7 linked regions of the Homo sapiens genome follow. The protein of the gene in region 3 purifies or fractionates together with the protein of the main gene of each other region. This does not show direct contact. Each region holds a gene or a part of one and is shown on either strand. Other genes may lie near its edges.

What was found.
Region 1: the proteins of LCN9 (region 3) and SIL1 purify together in Homo sapiens (affinity purification with mass spectrometry; one large-scale study listed by BioGRID and IntAct). This does not show direct contact.
Region 2: the proteins of LCN9 (region 3) and NKIRAS1 purify together in Homo sapiens (affinity purification with mass spectrometry; one large-scale study listed by BioGRID and IntAct). This does not show direct contact.
Region 4: the proteins of LCN9 (region 3) and ZNG1C purify together in Homo sapiens (affinity purification with mass spectrometry; one large-scale study listed by BioGRID and IntAct). This does not show direct contact.
Region 5: the proteins of LCN9 (region 3) and BPNT2 purify together in Homo sapiens (affinity purification with mass spectrometry; one large-scale study listed by BioGRID and IntAct). This does not show direct contact.
Region 6: the proteins of LCN9 (region 3) and PDIA5 purify together in Homo sapiens (affinity purification with mass spectrometry; one large-scale study listed by BioGRID and IntAct). This does not show direct contact.
Region 7: the proteins of LCN9 (region 3) and NUDT9 purify together in Homo sapiens (affinity purification with mass spectrometry; one large-scale study listed by BioGRID and IntAct). This does not show direct contact.

What each region holds. Positions count from the first base shown.
Region 1 is NC_000005.10:139,191,869-139,195,368, forward strand, and holds part of SIL1 (nucleotide exchange factor SIL1 precursor), read right to left. Parts: intron 1-3,500.
Region 2 is NC_000003.12:23,896,491-23,899,990, forward strand, and holds part of NKIRAS1 (NF-kappa-B inhibitor-interacting Ras-like protein 1), read right to left. Parts: intron 1-3,500. UniProt on the Homo sapiens protein: Atypical Ras-like protein that acts as a potent regulator of NF-kappa-B activity by preventing the degradation of NF-kappa-B inhibitor beta (NFKBIB) by most signals, explaining why NFKBIB is more resistant to degradation.
Region 3 is NC_000009.12:135,662,113-135,666,108, reverse strand, and holds the start of LCN9 (epididymal-specific lipocalin-9 precursor), read right to left. Parts: upstream 2,801-3,996; 5' UTR 2,788-2,800; coding exon 2,692-2,787; intron 1,948-2,691; coding exon 1,811-1,947; intron 1,388-1,810; coding exon 1,314-1,387; intron 865-1,313; coding exon 754-864; intron 459-753; exon of another isoform or gene 422-458; coding exon 366-421; 3' UTR 357-365; intron 249-356; 3' UTR 1-248.
Region 4 is NC_000009.12:68,251,983-68,255,482, reverse strand, and holds part of ZNG1C (zinc-regulated GTPase metalloprotein activator 1C), read right to left. Parts: intron 1-3,500.
Region 5 is NC_000008.11:56,962,868-56,966,367, reverse strand, and holds part of BPNT2 (Golgi-resident adenosine 3',5'-bisphosphate 3'-phosphatase), read left to right. Parts: intron 1-15; coding exon 16-177; intron 178-2,303; coding exon 2,304-2,575; 3' UTR 2,576-3,500. UniProt on the Homo sapiens protein: Exhibits 3'-nucleotidase activity toward adenosine 3',5'-bisphosphate (PAP), namely hydrolyzes adenosine 3',5'-bisphosphate into adenosine 5'-monophosphate (AMP) and a phosphate.
Region 6 is NC_000003.12:123,143,525-123,147,024, forward strand, and holds part of PDIA5 (protein disulfide-isomerase A5 precursor), read left to right. Parts: intron 1-1,997; coding exon 1,998-2,068; intron 2,069-2,574; coding exon 2,575-2,735; intron 2,736-3,500.
Region 7 is NC_000004.12:87,425,573-87,429,072, forward strand, and holds part of NUDT9 (ADP-ribose pyrophosphatase, mitochondrial isoform a precursor), read left to right. Parts: intron 1-3,500.

The sequences.
Region 1 (3,500 bases), on a different chromosome or scaffold from region 3:
GTTTGAGACCAGCCTGGCCAATATGGTGAAATCCCATCTCTACTAAAAATACAAAAATTAGCCAGGCGTGGTGGCAGGCGCCTGTAGTCCCAGCTACTCGGAAGGCTGAGGCAGAAGAATCACTTGAACCTGGGAGGCAGAGGTTGCAGTGAGCCGAGATTGTGCCACTGCACTCCAGCCTGGGCAACAGAGCAAGATGCTGTCTCAAAAAAAAAAAAAAAAAAAAAAATCCACTGGCGAGTGAGGCATGGTGGTACATGCATGTAATCCCAGCTACTCAGGAGGTTGAGGTGGAAGGATTGCTTGATCCCAGGAGTTCAAGACTAGCCTGGGCAACATAGCAAGACCCCATCTCAAAAAAAAAAAAAAAAGTCCATTGGCATTAGCTTTCCTCACCAGAACTTTAGGATGTATCTCAGATTATTCTTCCAGTTTCTAGATCTCTTTCCCATCACAAGACTGAAGAAGCAAACTACTTGCAGAGATGGAAGTAGCCAGATGTGGAGATGAGTTCACTGACCACTTTGATGTTTTTCTGCCAGTGATGATAAGTGGTAACCAAAAGGGATGATCAAGAACTTCCTCAGTCACAACATAGCCTATGAGCAGACCTCAGAAACATACCCTTCCCCATTTCTCTGTAGATGTGAAATGTGAAATGTGACAAGGGCCAAACATCAGACTCTTCCCAAAGGTTCCGATGTCCAGTCTGGGGACACCTGGGCCAACACAGCAGCCCCAGCTGTGAAGATGGAAGGTCCAAGAGGCACCAGAGAAGCAGATGATAAATGGACCACCTCAAAATCCAAAGACTGGAAGAAAATTAAAACAATAAAGAATAAACTTGGCTGGGTGTGGTGGTTCACACTTAATAATCCCAGTACTTTGGGAGACCGAGGCAGGAGAAATGCTTGAGCCCAGAAGTTCAAGACCAGCCTGAGCAACACAGTGAGACTGTCTCTACCAAAAAAAAAAAAAATTAGCCAGATGTGGTGGCACATGCCTGTAGTACCAGCTACTCAGGAGGCTGAGGCAGGAGAATCACTTGAACCCAGGAGGCAGAGGTTGCAGTGAGCCAAGATCACGCCATTGCACTCCAGCCTGGGCAACAAGAGCGAAACTCAGTCTCAAAAAAAAAAAAAAAAAAAAAAAAAAAACAGGAAAGGAAACGAAAAAGCTTGTGGTACTAGCTGTTTCTTCTGGATAAAAAACTGGCCTTGATGACTACATTAAAGAAAGAATATCAGATAAGACCATGCATTCTCAGTGAGTGCAGTAACAGCCCAGAAGGGGTGAAAATTGATTCTTGGGGGAAAAAAAGTTAGATATTACAATGGTTTGTGGCCATCCAAAGGGCCACAATACAAAAACAGATACACAGTACATCTGTGGTATTAAAATTCCATTGGGGGTAGCTGGGCACGATGGCTCATGCCTGTAATCCCAGCACTTTGGGAGACTGAGGTGGGCAGATCACTTAAGGCCAGGAGTTCAAGACCAGCCTGGCCAACATGGCAAAACACAAAAACTACTACTAAATAACACAAAAATTAGTTGGGCATGGTGGTGGGCGCCTATAATCCCAGTTACTCAGGAGGCTGAAGCACAAGAATCACTTGAACCCAGGAGGCAGAGGCCACAGTGAGCAGAGATCACACCACTGCACTCCAGCCTGGGCGACAGAGTGAGACTCCCTCTCAAAAAAACATTCCACTGGGGAGTAGACAATTAAGGGAAAAAAAGTCTCAAAATATGATAATGAACAAAAGGTTGAAAAATAATTAGATGAACCCAAAGGGTTGAGTCTTAGATGAACCCTAAGGGCACAGTGTTCATTAACTTGTATAATGGTCATGGGTAGGGTAACTAACTTGTCCTGGTTTGCCCCGGACTTTCCTGCTTTTGGCACTAAAAGTCCCACATACGGATATCCCTCTGTCCTGGGAAAACTGGCATGGTGGTCCACTCTTCTCAAGAGAGAGATCAATGAAGGCATTCCCATTTCACAAATGAGGTGACACCAAGAAACACAGTGGTTGTCACGGATTCACAGCACTTTAGCAGCATTCCTGAGGCAAGGCTGGCTCTTTCCATTTGTCTAGTCCTATGCTCACAACTCTCTGCCCCTGATTTCCACTTTGGCAGAGAATGTTACTCATGAATTGATTATGCCACTTCCTTCTCAATACCAAAGCCAAGGGCAGTATTAGGAGGATGAAGGCAAACATGGCCAGCCAGCATAATCACAGCCATGTCTTACAGCTGCCTGGTGGAACCTGAAGGAACTACAAGTCTGGGCTGAATATAGTTTTGTTGCTACTGGATTCTGGGTACAAATTTGCAAAAGTAAGAATGCCAGGTGTAAACTCCTCACAAGCTAGGAAAATTCCTAGCTTGAGGTTCTCCACATGTGTCTGAGCAGCCCGAATCTTTTACAAGGTTTTTGTCCCAAAGATGAACTCAGTTATTGCTTATGCTAGGAATCAGGGGTTACCCAAGGCCTCACTCTGAATGGCAACAGGCTATTCTCCTACTCCCCTACTCAGCAGTGAAATCCTTGGTGAAAGTAAAGGAAGAAAAGAAAAGGGCATGCTATTCCGTCTTTAGTCTACGTATAATTAAAATACAAGACTCTCTGCTGTAGAAGACTAAGGTTTGCAGTTTAAGGCCGACTCAGAAAAGGATAAAGTATTCATCCTTGCTCAGAAAGAGAGAAGATTAGCTCCACAGGATGGGTCTCCAAATTGACACCAAATCCAGGAGTTAGAGATGGCTGTGCTACAGAGCGTGATCCAAGCACCATCTGGAGCCCCCAGAAAAAAATCCCTAGGAATAGCGACTAAGGGACTAGCATTGTAAGAGAGTTCAGATTAGCTCTCCTGAAAAGAGGCTTACTACAAGAGACTGGCAGACAGCCTCTGCAGCAAAACTTCACTTAGGAAAGGACAGAAAATGAATGAAGAAAGACAGGGGGAGGCTGAGCAGGTCAGAGTATGAATCCACAAGTATGTGAAAAAGAGAATCCACCTATTTCGAAAAAGGTACAACTTCCTTTCAGAGCCTTTTTTTTTTTTTTTGAGACAGAATCTCTCGCTCTATCACCCAGGCTGGAGTGCAATGGCACAATGATCTCGGCTCATTGCAACCTCCGCCTCCCGAGTTCAAGTGATTCTCCTGCCTCAGCCTCCCGAGTAGCTGGGATTACAGGCATGCGCCACCACGCCCGGCTAATTTTGCATTTTTAGTAGAGACGGGGTTTCTCCATGTTGGTCAGGCTGGTCTTGAACTCCCGACCTCAGGTGATCCACCCACCTCAGCCTCCCAAAGTGCTGGGATTACAGGTGTGAGCCACCGCACCCGGCCAGAGACTCTCATGTTCTTTTGAATATTCTCATTAACGGCAAATCTTCATTCTTTGAGGGTGAAAACATTTATTGCATTCCTATGTCCCAAGAGCTTTCATGTGTAATACGTCATTTAACCACCCTTCAAAGTAAATA
Region 2 (3,500 bases), on a different chromosome or scaffold from region 3:
TAATCCCAGCTACTCGGGAGGCTGAGGCAGGAAAATCGCTTGAACCTGGGAGGCGGAGGTTGCTGTGGGCTGAGATCATGCCACTGCACTCTAGCGTGGGCAATAGCAAGACTCCATCTCAAAAAAAACAAGGATGATACATCTATAGCCACAGGATGAATATTATACATTAGTTACCAAGAAAAAAAAACAGGGGTGGGTGGATGGGTGTGGTGGCTCACACCTGTAATCCCAACAGTGTGGGAGGCTGAGGAAGGAGGACTGTTTGAGACCAGGAGTTCAAGACTAGCCTGAACAACATAACAACACCTGTCTCTACAATTAAAAAAAAAAAAAATCTGGGTACTGATATGGAAACAACTCCAAGATATGTTACATGAAAAACAGAAGGTACAGGATAGTATGCCACCTGGTGTGAGAAAGGGAAAAAAGGCTAGGCACACGGTGGCTCACACTCATAATCCCAGCACTTTGGGAGGCCGAGGCAGGAGGATCACTTGAAGCCAGGAGTTGGGAGACCAGCCTGGGCAACAGAGCAAGACCTTGTCTTTGCAAAAAAATAAAAATAAAAATTAGGCAAGCATGGTGATGTACTCCTGTAGTCCCAGCTACTCAGGAGACTGAGGCAGGAGGTCACTGGAGCCTGGGAGTTTTAGGCTGCAATCATGCCATAGCTCTCAAGTCTGGGCAACAGAGCAAGACCCTGTCTGAAATAGGGAAAAAAAAAAAGGAGGAAAAATATTTTTAATGTATACTCCTATTTGCTTGCATTTATATAAAGAAACTCTGGATGACTGCCCCAAAACTAATAAAGGGGTAAAATATTTTAAAAAGCATGCTTAATGTACAGGATCTTGGTGGTTGAGGACAGCTGTGGGAACCAGACTGAACACAGTCCTTTTTACATATGATTGTCATTTTTGAACCATGTGCAAACATTACTTATTCAATTTTTTAAAACCAAACATGAAAATAAATAAATGCAACTTAAGCCATATCATGTCATTCCTTTGCCCCAAACCAGTGCTTTCTGATCTCACTAAAAGTGAAAGGCAAAGTGCCCCCATCACCTACAACACACCTCCTAGCCCACTCTGGCTTCACTGCCGATTCCTGAACATGGCAAGCAAATTCCGACCTCAGATCCTCGGTACTAGCTATTCCCTCCACCTGGAGCACTCTTCCTTCCAGACATCAGCTTTGTTCCCTCCCTCCTTACCTCCTTCAAATATCTGCTAAAGTCACCCTACAGAAAATAGCACCCTCATTCCCCATTCTGCTTTTCCACATAGCATCACTCATTGTAATGTATTAAATATATTTATTTACTGTCTCTCTCACTCCCAAAATAGAAGCTTTATTGGGATATGGACTGTTTTGTTCTCTACCACATTCCCTGTACCTAGAACAATGCCTGGCACATAGTAGTTGCTAAATAAGCATTCACGGAATTAATACGATTATGGGGATTGAAGAAGCATATGAGGAAGTTACTATTATTCTCCTTTTACAGATAAGGAAACTGAAGCAGAAAAGCTGAGAAGCAAAGCCAAGATTTAAGTATCTAGTACGTGAGTGTTCATTGACCTTTCAACTTTTGTGGGGCAGAGAGGGGTCTCTGGAGGATACCCAAGTAAATAATTACAGCATTTGCCTGTTTCGGTGGGAAAGATGGGAAATACGGGGGAGAGGAGCTTTCATGACTTCTTACATCTTTTCAAAACCTTGTGAATATGTTATCTATTCATAAAGTAAATTAGTATTCTAAATAAAATATCAATAACCCAGATGTCCTACAACAGATAAATGGTTAAAAAGAGTTTGGTACGTACCATGGAATACTACTCACCAAGAAAAAGAAATGAACTACTGATCCATGCAGTGACTTGGATGAATCTCCAGAGGATATGTGAGTAAAAAAAGCCAATCCCAAAAGATTACATATTGTATGATTTTTTTTTTTTTTTTCCGAGACAGAGTCTTGCTCTGTCACCCAGGCTGGAGTGCAATGGCATGATCTCAGCTCACTGCAACCTCTGCCTCCCGGGTTTCAAGCGATTCTCCTGCCTCGGCCTCCTGAGTAGCTGGGATTACAGGCGTGTGCTACCACGCCAGGCTAATTTTTGTATTTTTTTAGTAGAGACGGGGTTCCACCATGTTGGTCAAGCTGGACTCGAACTCCTGACCTCGTGATCTGCCCACCTCGGCCTCCCAAAATGCTGGGATTACAGGTGTGAATCACTGCACCTGGCCTGTATGATTTCTTTTATATCAGGGGTCCCCAACCCCTAGGTCATGCGCTGGTACCAGTCCAGGGCCTGTTAGGAACCGGGCCACACAACAGGAGGTGAGCAGGGAGCAAGCAAGCATTACCACCTGAGCTCCGCCTCCTGTCACATCAGTGGCATGAGGTTCTCACAGGAGCTGGAGAATCAAATTGTGAACTGCACATGTGAGGGATCTAGGTTGCATGCTCTTTTTGAGAATCTAATGCCTGATGATCTGAGGTGGAACAGCTTCATCCCCAAACCACCCCATCTCCATCTGTGGAAAAATTGTCATCCACAAAACCGGTCCCTGGTGCCAAAAAGACTGGGGACCACTGATTTATATAACAATCTTGAAATGACACAATTATAAAAATGGAGATCAGATGAGTGGTTACCAAGGGTTAAGGTGGGGGTGAAGATGGGAGGGAAGTGGGGCAGCTATAAAAGAGTAACATGAAGGATCTTTGTGGTGATGGAAACGTTCTGTGTCTTGACTGAATCAACACAAATACGGTGGTTATGATGTACTAGAGTTTTGAAGATGGTACCACTGGGGCAAACTGGGTAAGGGATCTCTCTCTGTTACTTCTTAAAACTGCATGTGACTCTATAATTGTCTCAAAATAAAAAGCTTAACAAAAAATATGCAAAAATCTAAGTTAAGAACATCTAGCCAGTACTTTTTGTTGTTGCTGTTTGTTTTGTTTTTTGTTTTTTTTCTACCATCTAGCCAGTACTGTTAATCAGTATATTATCTGGTTTCCTAGACAATGAAGAGTCCGCCACGTGAAGATCTGGAGAAAGATTTGAGATAAGAGAGTTCCAGACAGGGAAACAAGCAATTGAGAAAGCTTAATAGGAAAACAAAACTATCATGTTGAAAAAACAGAAAGTAGACTGGTGTCACTGGAGTATAGTGAGAGACAGGCAGATAATAAAGATGAGATGAAAAGGACAGGCATGGGCCAGGTAATCTAAATCTTTACAGACCACTGTAAGGCATATGAATCTTATGTTTAAGTGGTATATGGGTAGAATCCAATAATTATTAGGTTTCTTTTTTTGGTAAGCCTGAAGACAAGAATCCTATGTACCCAAGGAGATAATAAAAAGCCCAAGGAGGGCAGGCATGGTGGCTCATGCCTGTAATCTCAGCACTTTGGGAGGCCGAAGCAGGCGGATCACAAAGTCAGGAGATCGAGACCATCCTGGCTAACACGGTGAAACCCT
Region 3 (3,996 bases):
AGACCTTACCACCCTGGAAGGCCCCATCACTGCCCCGACTCCAGGATGCTTTTCACAGCATCTTTCACCAAAGCACCTTGTGTTCGGTTCCCAGACCAGGGGGAGGGATGGGCACCTCCTGGGGTGGGACCCCGCAGCCTCTGACGTTGGCCCCAAGCTCTCCCCATCCAGCCCCCTGCCCGTCCCGAGTCGCAGCTCACGCATGGGAGGCCTGGGCGGGCTCCTGTAATGCTTGGAGTAGCAGGGATCTGGAAGGACAGAGGGGGCTCTCAGCGCAGGGACAGGGACCCCGCAGGCACACCTCCCATCCCCACCCTGTCCCGGCTCCCGCTTGGTCCGGGAGCAGTGGGGCTGACCTTTGTTGGTCAAGTCGATGATATTTTGTGAGCCAAGTCCGTACTTTTCGCAGGTTTCTTCAAATCTGCTCAGGAAGGAGGGTTCCAGCTATGGGACCCGTGCTGGGAACAGAGTTGGTTCTGTGTGAAGCTGGGCCTTGCTGGGGGTGCTCAGGAAGTGCTGAGGCTGGGCAGGGGGTCACGCCCTGACCAGAGAGGGGCTTTGTGCCAAGTGAGATGGGAGGTGACAGATTGAAGCACCCAGCACCCTAACGGTGTGTCTGTGGGAAGGAATAGCCAACGGGAACCACCTCTCCAAACCCCAGGGCCACTGCGAGACCCTCCTCCGCCCAGGGTTGGGCCGGACTTCAGAGGAGGTGGGGTCCCCGAGGGGGTCAGAGGGGGACAGCGGAGGTACCATAGAGCGCCAGCGTGTGGGTCTCGGTCCCGTTCCTGAAGTTCTGGAGGTGGAAGGTGATGAACAGCCTGTAGTCAGTCTCCGAGACGGCCACTGTGTTCTGGCCCTCATCTGCGTGGAGACATGGCTCAGCGTGGCCTGGCCCCGCCACCCTCAGGGTCCTGTGACACGTGCTGTGTGGCCGCAAGTGAGGATGGGGGGTCAAGTGGCCTTTTGAGGCGGGAGGGGAGGAGCCCACGGTGCTCACCCAGCGGAGACCCCTGCACAGGGGGCGGGCAGCAGCGGCACAGCCCCCTCCCTCCTTGTCATTGGCTTGCAGACCCTGGTGGCCCCTCAGTGGGCTCACCCCCCAGAGCTCAGCATGACACACCTGCCTCCCTGCTTCCCCTGGGCCAGGAGCCCCCCTGGGTAGGTGCCAGGATGGGTCCCTCCAGTTCAGGGTCAAGCTGTCAGGGGCTTAACTAAAATCCCCAGAGTCAGTGCTCACCAGAATATGGCCCAGGCCCTGGAGAAAGGAGACCCCCGACTGTGAGACCAGGAGGAGCCTGGCTTCCACTTACAGTTGATGGAGTATTCCCCATTCTTCTCTGTCTTCTCGCAGACCACGACCACAGCCACACACTCCCCCTGCACCCTGGAAGCCAGCCAGGAAGATGCCGGGAGTGGAGCTCCAGCCCCCTGGACGTGCGATGGCAGAGAGCACCCCTCCTCCAGGGCACAGGCTCACCCTCCCAATGCCCAGGCCTCATTCCACAGCCCCAAGTTCTTGGGCTGGGCCCTGCTGCAGCCCACCGGACACCCTCATCTCCTCGAACCTCACCCCAGCCTTGGAAGGGGGCGATTTCATCTCTATGTTTCAGGGAAGAGCACAGTGCCAGGCAGACCAAGTCCCTGCTCCCACCTCACCCTGCCCCCAAGGGTCACACGCACAGGCTCAGGCTCTCACCAGAGTGCAAGTCAGTGAGTGTGCGAGCGTGTGTGTGCAAGAGTGAGAGTATGCGTTGGGGTGGCAGGGGCATGGGTCTTCCTGATGCCAGCTGAGATGGGCAACACGCACATGTATTCGAAATCAAATATTAGGCTGCCGTTCTTCAAGTGTTCAATATTCCGGACGAAGACCCTCAGGTCTCCATTTTCTTTAATCCGATTCAGGTCATCTGAGGCCATGAAAATAGAATACCAGACCCCTGAAACCTGAAGACAAAGAGCTCCAGTGGGTGGGGGGCCGCGGGACAGCCCTGGGGATGCTTAGCGCCCACAGTCTTCCCTCCCAGGGCCCGGCCCCTTAGCATCTGGCTCCCAACCAGAACCCCTCCGCCCTTCCAGTGCCCCCAGGTCTCCCCTCGTCACCAGATCCCCCCTTTACCCCCAAGGTCGCCCCTCTGCTCACAGAATGCCCTCCGCCCTTCCAGGGCCCCCGCTGCCCCCCAGGTCTCCCCTATGTCCCCAGATCCCCCCTTTGATCCCAAGGTCCCCCCTCTGCTCACAGAATGCCCTCTGCCCTTCCAGGGCCCCCTCTGCCCCACAGGTCTCTCCTCTGCCCCTCCAGGTCCCCCTCTGTCCTCTCAAGGTCCCCCGCTCCACCCTTTCCCACTGAGTCCCCCTCTTTTCCCTAGGTCTCCCCTATACTTCTAGGAACCCCTCTGTCCTCTTAGGGCCCCCATCTCCCTGCTGGCCGCCACTCCACTCTCCAGCTTTCCCCTCTGCCCTCCCAGGGCCCCCTCTAACCTCTCAGGGCCCCAGTCACTCTCCCAGGCCTCTCCCACCCGACCCTCCCGGAGTAACCCCTGCTCTCCCAGGCTGCTGTCACAGCTTGGGGAGGAGAGGTGGGCTCCCCTTGGACCAGTTGCCCTGGTCACAGGTCAGAGACCCCAGGCTGGGGGAAGACAGGTGCCTTGAAGCCTGGCCCCTTCCCCACAGACCCCAACGCAGACACACCCTGGCCACGTTGTAGTTCCTCTGCATAACGGTGTGGGGATCGAACTCCTGGGCTGCGATGAGGCTCAGCCCCAGGCTCAGCAGAAGCAGAGCCATCTTTGCCGTGGACGCCTCAGCCCTCGGCCCACCCCCTTTATACCCTGCTGCCCTGCGGCTTCCAGCCCTGCAGGGCGGCCCACTCTGTGGCCCGTCCACACACATCCTGTGCCCACTGGGCATGCAGCCAAAGGCCCCGAGGCTGCTGCCCTCTCTACCTTGGGGAAGATCACCCCACTCCCTTGTGGGAGCTTCCTGGATCCATGGGCAAAGGAACCTGCTGTCCCCTCACTGGAGGCAGGCACCTTGTCCCAAATGCAGGGGACAGCCTCTCTCTCAGCCTGCAAGAGGACCCATGGTGGCTGTGTCTGTGGAGTACAGGGTGTCCCTGTTCCCCTCCCATCCCCTCCCGCTCCTTCCCCAGCACAGCGTCTGGGGCCGGAGCCAATGGTGAGTCACAGCGTCCCCAGACTCAACCGACGGCCGGGCGCTTATTCGCTCCTTATTCTCTCAGCCCAGTAACGAGATGCAGACGAGCTGGGAAATAAGAGAGTTTGCTTCTGTCACCGGGTACAGGCAGAAGCCCGGGAAAATAGCACTAGACCAGCTCAAAATTGCAGTTTTCCAGAGCTTATATATCTTCGAAGCTGTAGGTCTACGTGTAAGTGTGCATTCAGCTAAAGACACAGTGATGAACTTCTTCTAATCTATAATTAAGGCCTGAGTCCTGAAGAACTTCCTCTGGAGCCTCAGTAAATTTACTTAATCTGGAGGGGTCCAGGTGCTGGGGTGATTCCCCTTATCTTTTCTCCTGCTAAATCATGGAGGTTTGGGGCGTTCCTTTAGACCCCAGTAAAACTTGTTTAATCCTAAACGGGTCCTGTTAAGAATTCCTTTGTTATCTTGTCATGCTTCAAGGCCCAGGAGAGGCCTGGGCAAAACTCTTGGTGGGCTTTTGTTACATTCCAGCCTCTGTTGAAGGGCGCTGGCCCTCTCAGCTTTTAATATTTGACTTCACCACCCGGTCAGTGCTGAAACAGTTGTCGTGGAGGCCGGCCTATTCAGCCGTTAGTGAGACCTGGCCTGCCACAATCCCCACTGTCAAATTATGCATGATTGCTATCATGCTTGTATATTTATTTCTTATGAGAATCATGGGGGGATGGGGCATTATAATCTTTCTGGCTACTTCCTGCTGATAGGAGGTCATTGTTACGGGGCACCAAACGCAGTGTTGGAGTGAAAGATGTTGATTTGTTCCCAGTAGTA
Region 4 (3,500 bases), about 67 Mb from region 3:
TGGATGTAGGTATTTAGGAGGAGTAAAGATGAATGAACAAAATTGATTAGTGGCTCTCAAACCAGGGTGCTTTTCTCCCCAGGGAATATTTGGCAATGTCTGAAGATGTTTTTGGTTGTCTTAACTAGGGGAATGCTACTGGCATCTAGTGGGTAGAAGCCAGGGATGTTGTTAAATATCCTACTCTGCACAGGGCAACCCCCTCACAACAAATAATTATCCAACCCAAAATGTTATTTGTGCTGACACTGAGAAAACCTGAACTACATTTTAGAATCTCCCTTCTTCAAAATCTAATAAAACAAAAAATAAAAATAAAAAATAAAACAAAAAGGCCAACATTTTATTAGCAGCAACCAAATATAAAAGGGCCTGCCATAAATTTTGAAGACTGATAGTCAAAATAAGAAACAAAGTTATATGTGATTGATGGTCATTCCCAACTCTACCCCTACCTCCAATAAGAGGTTGTAGGGAAATAGTTTACAAAATCCTAAACACTTACCAGAAATACACTCCAAAATGGCAAAAAGTAGAGCCGAGGAATGAATAAGCAACAGAGGGAAAAGTCAACAAAAAAATTTCAAGAGTGAGTTTTAACCATCTCCATGCTTTGGGAAGGAGAAGGTCAGGTCACATTCTAGGGCTCAGAACAAAGAGAAATGAGAGGTCTGAGGTCGAATGATGTCCCCATACAAGGCAAAGGAATTTTATTCATAAGCAGTTGGGCAGACCCAAGAGTGAAATACTTGGTACTTCAAGAGAGCAGAGCCTAAAAGCCACATTGCCCCATTTGGCTCTCTGAATCACCACTTTTCCCTTCTCTTTCCCTCCACTCCAACAATATACAGCTTTCAAACTAGGGCTCAGGAGAAAAACAAACTTGGGTAAGGAGAGTGGAGTATTAAAAATATTTCCCATCAGCACCACATAGAAGTTCTCCCATATCAAGAAGAAACTTGTATGCATATGTATTACAGCCTGACAAAAAGAAATACACACATACAGGGAATAAAAAGCAAGAAAGAACACAAAATGAAGAAATGAATAGGGCATACAAGTGGCAAAGAACCCATTCTGGAAGGATACATAACCCAATAAAAACTAAAGAAAATTCTCAACAACTTCATCATAATGAAGAACTTGAAAACAATACAACCTTATAATAAACAAGCTCAAAAGCAAGAAGCAGAATAAGATGAAAATGCAGTTTGTAGTGCTAAAGAAACTTAGAGCCTATATAACACAATGACTTAACCAATTAATTCATTTAAAATATCAAAAACAGGACAGATACTGGAGAAAACAGAATTATTGACAAAAAGAAAGGCTTCAGATGATCACAGTAAATGCAAAGGTAAAAGACAAATCAAAGCAATTAGAATACATACGAAGAACAAAAGAAAATTCAGTATTAAAAAAACTGGTGTCATGAAGTAGAGGATCTAATAATTTGACCAAAAAAAAGTATTCATGGTAACAAACAAGGAAAATGTTCTTAGAAGAACTAAGGGCATATTATAATTTAGGGAAAAATGATTATAAGTGACACTTAGATATACCTTGTTTATATTACTGAATTTCAAAAATAAAGAAGAAAACTCTCAGGCATTTTAGATTAAAAAAAAAAAAGTGCCTTCAAGGAGGGAGGGAGAAAAATCAGACTTTTCTACAGTAACACTAGATGTCCCAAAATAATAAAACAGTGACCACAAAGTTCTAATGAAAGTGTTCCCAAACAAGTTATTTTTCAGGAACGAAAGCAATAGACAGACATTCTCAAGCATTAAAGAAAACAGCAAGCATTGAAACTCAGAGACTATAATACTCACAAATTCTTCCTAATAAAAGGAGAAAACATTGGACAAAGAAATCCAGCCAATCAAACACTAGGAGATTATGGAACAACATTTACAAAGTTGAGGGGGAAAAAAGTGTGACTGATAAATTTTATACCGAGCCAAGTAATCCTTCAAGTAATATAAAAACAAAAGACAAATATTTTGAATCAATGAAGTGTATAAGAACCCAAAGAATGCATGCAGTACCTGTAACTTGAAAAGACTGCCTGACAATGAAATTCAATCAGGAGATGGACTAACTCGGGAATGGAGAAGCAACAGTACTGGTAATGAGCACCAAAACTATTAAAACATAGAACTAAAAGAATTATGACAGAACCATGACAACATAAAGAATATGATCAACATGAAACTAGGCCAATTAATATCCTACAATGGCCTCTAAGTGTTCAAGTGAAAGGAACAGTCACCTGTTTCTCACTTTAAATCAAGAGCTAGAAATGATTATGCTTAGTGAGAAAGTTATGTTGAAAGCCAAGATACGCCAAAAGCTAGGTCTCTTGAGCCAGTTAGCTAAGTTGTGAATGCAAAGGAAAAGTTCTTGAAGGAAATTAAAAGTGCTACTCCAGTAAACACACAAATGATAATAAAACAGCCTTATTGCTGATATGAAGTGGTCTGGATAGATGATCAAACAAGCCACAATGTTCCCTTAAGCCAAAGCCTAATTCAGAGCAACCCTAACTCTCTTCAGTTCTATGAAGGCTGAGAGAGGTGAGGAAGCTAGAGAAGAAAAGTTGGAAGGTAGCAGAGGTTGGTTCACAAGATTTAAAGAAAGAAGCCATCTCCATAACATAAAAGTGCAAGGGAAAGCAGCAAATGCTGATATAGAAGCTGTAGTAAACTACCTAGAAGATGTAGCTAACATCATTCATGAAAGTAGCTACACTAAGCAACAGACTTATTTTTTATTTATTTATTTATTTATTTTGAGATGGAGTCTCGCTCTGTCACCCAGGCTGGAGTGCAATGTGCAATCTCAGCTCACTGCCACCTCCGCCTCCCGGGTTCAAGCCATTCTCCTGCCTCAGCCTCCCAAGTAACTGGGATTACAGGCTCCCACCACCAAGCCAGGCTAATTTTTGGTATTTTTAGTCGAGATGGGGTTTCACTATGTTGGCCAGGCTGGTCTTAAACTCCTGAACTCGTGATCTGCCCATCTCGGCCTCCCAAAGTGCTGAGATTACAGGCATGAGCCACCGAGCCCGGCCAGCAACAGATTTTTAATGGAGATGAAATGGCCTCCTTTTGGAAGAAGATGCCATTTAGGACTTTCATAGCTATAGAGAAGTCAATGCCTGGCTTCAAAGATTCAAAGGACAGGCTGACTCTCTTGTTAGAGGCTAAAGCAGCTGGTGACTTCAAGTTGAAGCCAATAATCATTTACCATCCTGAAAATTCTAGGGCCATTAAGAATTATGCTAAATCTCCTCTGCCTGTTTTCTATAAATAATAAAGCCTAGATGACAGCACATCTGTTTACAGCATGGTTTATTTTAAGCCCACCATTGAGATCTACTGCTTAGAAAAAAAAAGATTCCTTCAAAATATTATTGCTCATTGACAACACACCTGATCACCCAAGAGCTGTGATGGAGATGTACAAGGAGATTAATGTTGTTTTCATGCCTGCTAACA
Region 5 (3,500 bases), on a different chromosome or scaffold from region 3:
ATATTTGCTTTTCAGCTTGGGCAATGGTAGATGGTGGTTCAAATGTGAAAGCCCGCTCTTCCTACAATGAGAAGACCCCAAGGATCGTTGTGTCTCGTTCCCATTCAGGGATGGTCAAACAGGTCGCTCTTCAGACTTTTGGAAACCAGACTACAATTATCCCAGCTGGTGGTGCTGGTATGTTCCTCTTCCTGTGTGGTCCCTGGAGAATGTTCCTGGCATGGTCAAGGCTATGTTAGGAGACTAATTTGCTTGTCCATGCTTGGGAGGAAAGTGAGGAGGAGTGGTGTACTTTCAAGACAGGCTTGGTCTCCTGTTTGGTAACCTCGAGGGTGGGATTTTAGTCACTCTGCCCTTCTTATTAGAAAGAAGCAGTCTCACAACAGTGGTTTCTCTTTCTTGAATACACAAAAGCATATTCCCATTAGATCTACCACTAATTGCTTTTTATGCAGTCTGATTTCAAAATAATTGTCTTACTTAACTGTGGGAATATCAAGGAGAGGAAGAAAGATCAAGCACTTAAGATGCTTCATATGGCAGAAAGACGCCAGGAGTCATCATAAGTATTATTAGAAAGGCTAATCCCTGAGTCACTTTTAACACCCCTGAACTCTTTAACCTGCATACCTGGGATGAGCAAGAGAGGCTAGTGCGCACCCACCTTATCGTATATTCTCTACTATTGTATTATAGTCAACCTAGTTTTTTGGAAAAGAAACCGATAATAAAATTTGAAGCCTCATGAGCCATATATATACAGTCTCTGTTGCATACTATTATTTGATTTTCTTTAATGAACTTTTGAACATATTTTTTAAAGATTCTCATCTTAACCCTGTAAGAACAGGCCATGACCCGGATTTAGCTTGAGGGGCTGTTTGTCAACTCCTGTTATGAGTACTGTCTAACATGTCAGAAATGTTTTAATTCAGGTTAATAGCAAATTATGGTCAGAAAACAAATGTGTTGGAAAACCTTCTCAGCACACATAAAGGGAGAAGTAATACTTCTTTTTTGTTTTGTTTTGTTTTGTTTTTTCTTTTTTTGAGATAGGGTCTCATTCTGTCTCCCAGGCTGGAGTGCAGTGGTGTGATCTAGGCTCATCGCAACCTCCGCCTCCTGGGCTCAGGTGATTTTCGTGCCTCAGCCTCCCGAGTAGCTGGGACTACAGGCATGCACCACCATGCCTGGCTAATTTTTTATTTTTAGTAGAGACGGGGTTTTGCCACGTTGCCCAGGCTGGTCTTGAGCTCCTGAGCTCAGGCAGTCTGCTTGCTGTGGCCTCCCAAAGTGCTAGGATTACAGGCGTGAGCCACCACACCTGGTCAATACTTTTTAACTTTTATGCCTAATAATTTTAATTTTCTGTTCTATATATCTGCCTTCTTTCATATGGCTTCATTATTTTCTTAGAGGCTCTCTGTTAGGTTGGTTAGGAAAAGTAATGTCCAGAATACCCAGCAGGGATGAGATGACTAGGTTCTAGACCCAGTTTCTTCTGCATTTGTTTTATTACTTTAGTTTTTAAATTCTGCCTCATTACAAAAAGGCTTTAGAGTGGTAGTGTTACTGTTAGTTCTCTTTCACATCGGGCCTACTTAGATGTTTAGGTAAAACTTGTGTGTATAATATGTCATTCCATAGAAAATGGCACGTAATGAATGTGTCATTCCATAGAAAATAACCACAATGTAGATTTAAAATTTTTAAATTGTAGGTATATATTTGGTTACATTTGAGACTAGCTTAATAAGTTACTTTGCAGGCCGGGTGCAGTGGCTCACGCCTGTAATCCCAGCACTTTGGGAGGCCAAGGCAGGCAGATCACGAGGCCAGGAGTTCAAGACCAGCATGACCAACACGGAGAAACCCTGTCTCTACTAAAAAATACAAAAAAATTTAGCAGGGCATGGTGGCACGCACCTGTAATCCCAGCTACTCAGGAGGCTGGGGCAGGAGAATCGCTTGAACCCGAGAGGTGGAGGTTGCAGTGAGCCAAGATCGCGCTGTTGCACTCCAGCCTGAGTGACAGAGCGAGACTCTGTCTCAAAAAATAAATAAATAAATAAAAATAAACAATAAGTTACTTTGCAATGTATTTTTGTTCTGAGTTTAATGTTTATACAGTTACTTTAAAATTTTTTTAATTTGAAATAATTTTAAACTTAAGCAGTTGCAGAGACTGCAGCAAGCTCCTGCACACTCCATCCTGCTATTTTAACAGGATACTTAATCAAAAAAGTATGCTACTTTCTTAAAATTTTTTGAATAATAACCTAAATTCTTTGTTTATCTTTTAGGTTATAAAGTTTTAGCACTTTTGGATGTGCCTGATAAGAGTCAAGAAAAAGCTGATTTATACATCCATGTGACATACATCAAAAAGTGGGATATATGTGCTGGTAATGCCATCTTAAAAGCCCTAGGGGGGCATATGACTACCCTGAGTGGTGAAGAAATCAGTTACACTGGTTCAGACGGCATTGAAGGGGGACTCCTTGCTAGCATCAGAATGAACCACCAGGCCCTGGTCAGAAAACTCCCAGATCTAGAAAAGACAGGACATAAATGAGCATAACTGATTACAGGGTACAGTTCTTCACAGCTGAAATGGTTAGCCTGAGATGCTGGAAGCTTCAAAGGATTGGTGGAGACTATGCATGGTTAAGGCCATCCCGAACTTTTTAAAGTATTTATGAAGCATCAGAGACTTATTTTCCCTGTAATAGAATGCAAAATCAGGGAAAATGGGTTGCTTTGTGTCTCAAGTATTGTCTTTATTTTTGAGACTATTTTCATACAGTTGTCATACACAAGGCGCATATATATATTTGTGAATTAAAATCTGTAGCTGAGTCTACATTGTTATGAGTCACCATTTTCACACAACATCATGAATCTTCACTGTTAGTACTTTCATATAGAATTCGGTTGAAGGAAAGATTGATTTTTGTGTAGATGTTTAATATAACTTTACAACTATATCTCATTGAAAATAAAGTCATTGGGGATTTTTACCTCTAATTTGGATGGAAAGCACAAGAAGCCACACATTCATTAATATGCAACAAATGTTGTATTTATGTTACTGAATATTTCTATGGATTAAAATAGAAAAAGTTTAATTGATTTTTTCTTTTAAATTTTAATAACAGGTTCACCAGCTGGTAGAAAATAGAGACACATGATGATTTGCATTGTAATAATTTCTGTGTGTATGTGTGTGTGTTGTTTTGTTTTTATAAAGAAAAGTGTGTTTGTACCCATGAGTTCAGCATTTCTGCCATCTTGCTATTTTCATTTTCCCTGTGGAAGATGCATGGTTGCATCCTTTTCCTTCTGACCAACACTTAGTCTTTAACTTTGTAAGGTTCGGTTTAAGGTTTCAGGGTTAGCACTATAGTTTTGGTTCATTTTCTCATTAACGATAAAATATGCTGTAAGGCACTATAAGAATATAAATGATTCTATTACAATTGAAAGTTACTTGACATTAC
Region 6 (3,500 bases), on a different chromosome or scaffold from region 3:
TTCCTCTGGTTCATCCCTTGAAGGCATCATGTGTGCCACTCTATTCCCCTCTGGACCAAAGACCATGGTCCTCTCTGTCATTATGCTGGAAGATTCTAAGGGCTGATGCCTTTTCTACCCTTTCTTCTGCATCATAGCCCAACAGGAGTAGGCAGCTCCCTAGATAATGGCAGCAGAGGTGCCTGTATACCCAGCAGTTCCTCCTCTTCTTGTTGTGGAGCCTCCCACTTGAGGGTTAGCAGTGTCTCTCTTCCTTGGATCCACCTGGGAAGAGCTGACATGTTGATGTGGCTAAGCACTGTAGCCACTCCCTGGGCTGCATTCCATGAGGGTCAGTGCCCTTGACCGAGTCATGTCTCCAGTGCTCTGTCCAGAGGAGGAGCTTCACAACACTGCCTGGGAGCTCAAGGATCAGTTTGGTTTTCTGTTATCAGTTAAGTGGGGAGTAGCCACTCCGGGGTCCCTTGTCCCTGGGAGGGACAGGGTGAGGATGAGCTGAGGAAGCCAGGTACAGGCAGGAGTGAAATGGAGAGATTAAGAACGAGACAGGTTCATGTCTCACCTGGAGCTGAGTTCTGCAGAAATGGCCTTGGAGGAGGAGACAGGAGCTTTCACCCCTGCCGGGTGCTCAGCTGGAGGCAGGAAAGCCGATTCCGTAGCTCAGTGGGAGGTCTCCTCTGATTACACTGTTTGACTTTCTGTCTTGCTTTCTTCTTGTCTTTCTTTTTCCTAACAATCAGTAGTAGAATTATAGCGTTCTCAGCTCCCACACAGTGGCACACCCCTGAGAAGGTTGAGTCACGACCTGTCATCCGCTGATCCTAGTTAATGCATGGTCCCCGCACAGCCAGGCTTACCTTCTGAGCAGCCTCCATCCTGAGCCAGTCTGCAGACCCCTCACCTCCCAGTCCCTCCAGCATCAGAGGCCAGAAAGTACTCTTTCTATTAAAATGAAAACAATGTACAAATGTCAAGGTCTGTCATTTACACAAAGTGCTTAATTTCTTTTTAATGCATCAAATTTTATTATTTCTGACATCTTACTGTGTTCATGCAGCTGTAAGAAAAGCACAGAGCAGGCTGGGCGCGGTGGCTCACGCCTGTAATCCCAGCACTTTGGGAGGCCGAGGTGGGTGGATCACGAGGTCAGGAGATCGAGACCATCCTGGCTAACACAGTGAAACCCCATCTCTATTGAAAAAGTACAAAAAAAATTAGCCGGGCGTGGTGGCGGGTGCCTGTAGTCCCAGCTACGTGGGAGGCTGAAGCAGGAGAATGGCATGAACCCAGGAGGCGGAGCTTGCGGTAAGCAGAGATGGCGCCACTGCACTCCAGCCTGGGAGACAGAGCAAGACTCTATCTCAAAACAAAAAAAAAAGAAAGAAAAGGACAGAGCAGTTTCTATCCCAAAAAATTCCCATCATGTCATATGGGGACAATTAGAATGTAATTATGTCCCATACTTATGCTTCTGTGAATTTTTGTGCCCAGCTCAAGGCCTCAGACTGCCTTCTGTCCAGAGAAGATGATGATGGTGATCACAGCATGGTGCCACAACCTACACGCTGCCTGCAGCTAGGGCCTCTCACCAGATGGTTGGGTTTTCAACCCAGCTCTGTGACCATGGCTGTGTATATGGCCTTGGGCAGTCACCTGCCCTCTTGGTGCCTCAATTGTCTAATCCATAGAATGGAGATAATGTCAGTTCCTACTTTGTGGGGTAGTTATGAGGCTGTAAGGCACTGGTCAGTACCTGGCACACCAGTTGCCCGTATTATTTATGCAGTTGTTTTATTTTTGTGTCTGGGGTACCTTCCCACTACCCCAACCCACTTCTGGTGGATTATGCAAAATATTTCTTTTCTTTGAGCTGGTGCTGCTGCTGCTTTTCTCAGGTGTCTGGGAATGGGACTGAGCTGCCTTACAGAGGCGGCGCAGGGGAGCATCCCGAGGGCCTCTGTGCCATAAGAATGGTTTCTCTTGATCTCTCCCCACAGGGTGTGGCCACTGTAAGAAAATGAAGCCGGAGTTTGAGAAGGCAGCAGAAGCCCTCCATGGAGAAGCGGATGTAAGCTTCCTTTCCTTCCCCCTCACCGTTCTCTTTGAAAGAATCACTGACAGGTGGAATCATTATGACTTTCCCCTGCAAGCCCTGCTGCAGCTCCCGTGGTCCGTGGAGGCCAGCAGTACCTCTGTGTGCCCAAGTAGAACATCTTAGACAGATGGGATCCTAGAGGGGGCAGAAAGACTACTGGCCCATGTTCCCGTGCCCATCCAGGTGACCTCTGCCTGCTCCCTCTTTTCTCTGGGACCCTGGCTAACAGGAACAGGTGCCAATCTACTCAACGTGGCTGGTGGGGCAGATTCAAAAGCCTCATCTCAGCTCATAAATGAGAAATGATGGCCGTGCCAATGTTCAGTTGTTCCCTGGGATATGGGAGCCCACTGGGCTAGCCACCCCAGTTAAATTCCAGCAGGTCCAGGATGGGTTGTGGGGGCAGCGTCTGGGCTCCTGTGTTCCACCAGCACCGCATCTGAGGCTGTAATGCATGGTTGGCCTTTCCCCCATCCCAGAGCTCTGGTGTCCTTGCAGCTGTCGATGCCACTGTCAACAAGGCCCTGGCAGAAAGATTCCACATCTCAGAGTTTCCTACGTTGAAGTATTTTAAGAATGGAGAGAAATACGCAGTGCCTGTGCTCAGGACAAAGAAGAAGTTTCTCGAGTGGATGCAAAAGTAAGTGTTACGATCTCAGTAGCACATCCTAACTGCCAGCTGGCGGCCCCTGGAGACCACCTTGAGGAGGTGAAGTAAACTTTATGGTCAATGTCCTGGGCTCATGCCCGTAGGAGTCAAGACGGATCTGACTTCCTCAACCCTAAAACCACCGTTCATATGCTGATCACGTGTCTTGATCAGGTCACTGCTGGCAGTCCTTCTGGACGCAGCTTCATCGACGCACTAAACCGTGTGTTGCTTTTTCTCTGTCTCAGCCTCCTTAGGCCCAGATCTTATTGTCTGCATTTTATTCCACTCCCTTTGAATAAATGAAGGAGACACAGCTCTTCATAGCCAGAGCTAGACTCATTTCGTCCAGGTTTGCTAGTGGTTGGCTGGGCCTCCAGTAATGTCCACAGGGCAGGCTATGGTGGTTTGCAACTGAGGATAAAGATTTTGAAGAGCCCCCTCAGCCTATGTATTAGTTTGCTAGTGTTGCCATAACCAAGTAACAGACCAGGTGGCTCAACAATATAATATAACAATATAACAGAAGTTTATTTTCTTACAATTTTGTTTTGTTTTGTTTTGTTTTGAGACAGTCTCACTTAGTCACCCAGGCTGGAGGCATGATCTCGGCTCACTGCAACCTCCACCTCCCAGGTTCAAGCGATTCTCCTGCCTCAGCCTCCCAGGTAGCTGGGATTACAGGCACATGCCACCATGCCTGGCTAATTTTTTGTATTTTTAGTAGAGACGGGGTTTCACCATGTTGCCCAGGCT
Region 7 (3,500 bases), on a different chromosome or scaffold from region 3:
TTAGTAGAGATGGGGTTTTACCATTTTGGCCAGGCTGGTTTCGAACTCCTGACCTCAGGCAATCTGTCTGCCTTGGCCTCTCAAAGTGCTGGTGAATACAGGTGTGAGCCCCCACGCCTGGCCAAGACCCTGTCTCTTTGAAAAAAAAAAAAAAAAAAAGAATTTTACCAGTCTTTGATAATTTGGAAAAACCCAGAAAGTGACAGTTTTGCACTTAGTTTTTGTGATTACTAGAAGGTTTCCAATGTTCATTTTCTTTTTTAATTGCTCTGTCACCTAGGCTGGAGTGCAGTGGTGTGATCATGACTCACTGCAGTCTCAACCTCCTGGGCTCAGTGATTGTCCCAGCTCAGCATCCTGAGTATCTGGTACTACCGGTGCGCACTACCAGGCCTGGCTAATTAAAAATTTATTTATTGTTTGTAGAGATGGGTCTCCCTATGTTGCCCAGGCTGGTCTCAAACTATTGGGCTCAAGTGATCCTCCTGCCTTGGCCTCCTAAAGTTCTGGGATTGTAGGTGTGAGACACTGCTCCCAGTCATCAAATGTACATTTTCTAGAAAAAAGGTAGTATATTACAAAGATGTAGTGAATGCTTTTACATACCACAACATACAAATCTTCCAGAAGGATCTACTGGTGATGTGTGTAGAATATTGTTTTATTCCTGTGAATGCATAAAACATATGAATGAACCAAAAATGAAATAGAGATAGTAAAACATAGTGTTAAGAGCCTGGAATTCTAAGACAGCTTGCCTAGGTTTGGATCCTGATTTCTACTCTCAATTGTGTGACCTTGGTAAACTTATTTACCTCTCTGGGTCTTAATGTTCTTATTTCCTTTTTTTTTTTTGAGACAGAGTCTCGCACTGTCGCCCCAGCTGGTGTGCAGTGGTGTAATCTTGGCTCTCTGCAACTTGTGCCTCCAGGGTTCAAGCGATTCTCCTGCCTCAGCCTAGTGAGTAGCTAGGATTACAGGCGTCTGCCACCATGCCTAGCTAATTTTTTTGTATTTTTAGTAGAGACGGGGTTTCACTGTGTTGGCCAGGCTGTTCTTGAACTCCTGACCTTGCGATCGCCTGCCTCGGCCTCCCAAAGTGCTGGGATTACAGGCGTGAGCCACTGCGCCTGGCCTTAATGTTCTTATTTATAAAAAAAAAAATTGAAAAAGGATAATATGGCCTGGTGTGGAGGCTCACACCTGTAATCTCAGCACTTTGGAAGTCCGAGGCAGGAAGATTGCTTGAGCCTAGGAGTTCAGGACCAGCCTGGGCAACATAGAGTGAGACCCCATCTTGACAAAAAATAAACAAAATTGGGAGTCGCTCAGCCTACCTGATTTACCAAACCACTCCCTTGCCAAAAAAAAAAACAAAAAACTAAACCAAAAAAAAAAAAAGCCAGGTGTGGTAGCATATGCCTATAGTCCCACCTACTCAGGAGGCTGAGGTAGGAGGATTGCTTGAGCCTGGGAGGTCGAGATTGCAGTGAGCCATGATTGTACCAATGCATGCCAGCCTGGGTAACAGAGTGAGGCCTTGTCTCAAAAAAAAAAAAAAAAGTTAAAAAAAAAAAAAGTACCTGAACTCAGTTGTGAGGATCAAGTGAGTTAATTTACAGTGCTTAGAACACTGTCTTGCACATAGCAATCACTATATACATTTAGGTGTGATTATGACAATGATTGTTGCAGATTTTATTTCAAAGCACCACGTCAGTATTGCATTTTTAAAAGTTTGCCAGTCTTAAGAATTGGTTTTTGCCATGTAAATGGACTTTATCAGCTACTTAGTTCCCATTTGCTAGGCCAAATATATTTCTTGCACTTGTTCAATAATACAATACAAAGGTCAAGGCTGTATATGTGTGTATTACAAGTATTCTTTTTTCTGGTACCTTACAGTGTATCACATTTAAATAGCATATATAGATAGCAGTGTTAGCACTTCTTGATGTGATAAGATGTATAGCCTGAATTTTTGCACAATTAAATTTGTTTTAGAAAAGTAAATAATCCAGTGTGTAAATCTGTCTTGTCAAGTAGGTAGATTTGTGGAATTCCATAAACATTTTATTGCTAAATCAGGGAACAAAGAGCCTTAAGTTATTTAAACATTTTTGGTACGTGGGTGGGATGGAGTGGAACAGCATTAGTGTTTCCTGTTTGGTATTTAATTAATGGCCTTAACTTTTTTCTTGCCCTACTCCCAAACCATGAAACATAACTCATTTTGTGATAGGGTTCAATTAGAGATTAGGGTTCCATATGTTAAAATTTTGCTTTTTAAAACACCTGAAGTCTGTTTGCTAATTTTGATAAATGTGTTTCATATATGTATTCATTTTTTATTGAGTATGGGTTTAAGGTGAGTGAGGGAGACTTTATTTTCAGAATATTCATTGTGTAGGTTTCCTAAACTGTGGCAGCTGAGGCAAGAAAGTTGTCATAATCATAATATGAAAGTGAATGAACCTACTGCTTTTAGTAAAGTTAGTCACAAATCAAATACTCGCTCACGTTACACTAGTTTTCAGCCCGTCTGGGGATATTAACTTCTTTATTAGTTAGGTTTTCCCTCATTTTTGGGTGTTTTACCACACTTTGCAGATGTAAAGTGAGTGTAAAATGAAATAGTAATTGTTTCAGAGTCTTTAAATGTGATGAAAGAGAACAGCTTGAACAGTATATAAAACTGTAGACACACAAGAATAGGAAAGAATGAAACCAGTTAAAAATCCAACTGACAGTTTGTCAGTTTCTTACAGAACTCAACACTTATAATTCAGCAATCACACTCTTTGGTATTTACCCAAATGAATTGAAAATTTATGTCCACACAAAAACCTGCACACAGATGTTTATAGCAGTTTTATTCATAACTGCCAAAACTTGGAAGCAACCAAGATGTTCTTCAGTAGGTAAATGGATAAATAAACTGCGGTACATCCAGACAATGGGATATTATATTATTTAGTGCTAAGAAGAAATGAGCTATCAAGCCATGAAAAGACATGGAGGAATCTTAAATGCATATTATTAACTGAAGGAAAGGCTGTATGATTCCAACTATATGGCATTCTTGAAGGCACAACTATGGAGACAGTAAAAAGATCAGGAGTTGGATGAATTGGGGTAGCACAGAGGACTTTAAAAAATAGTCATTTTTTTAGAGCAGTTTTTAGGTTCACACCAAAATTGAGCTAAAGATAAGAGATATCCTGTATACCTCCTACCTCCACCCATGCATAGCCTCCCGCATTGTCAACATCCCCACAGAGCCACGGAGCCATACGTTTGTTAAAATTGAACCTACATTGACGCTTCATCACCCAAAGTCCTGTAGTTTATATCAGGGTTTACTCTTGGTCTTGTACTTTATGGTTTGGACAAATGTATAATGACACGCATCAACTCTTATGGAATTGTACACGTAAAATTCACTGCCTTTAGGGCAGTGAAACTTGCGTATGATACCTAATGGTAGGTACATGTTTACA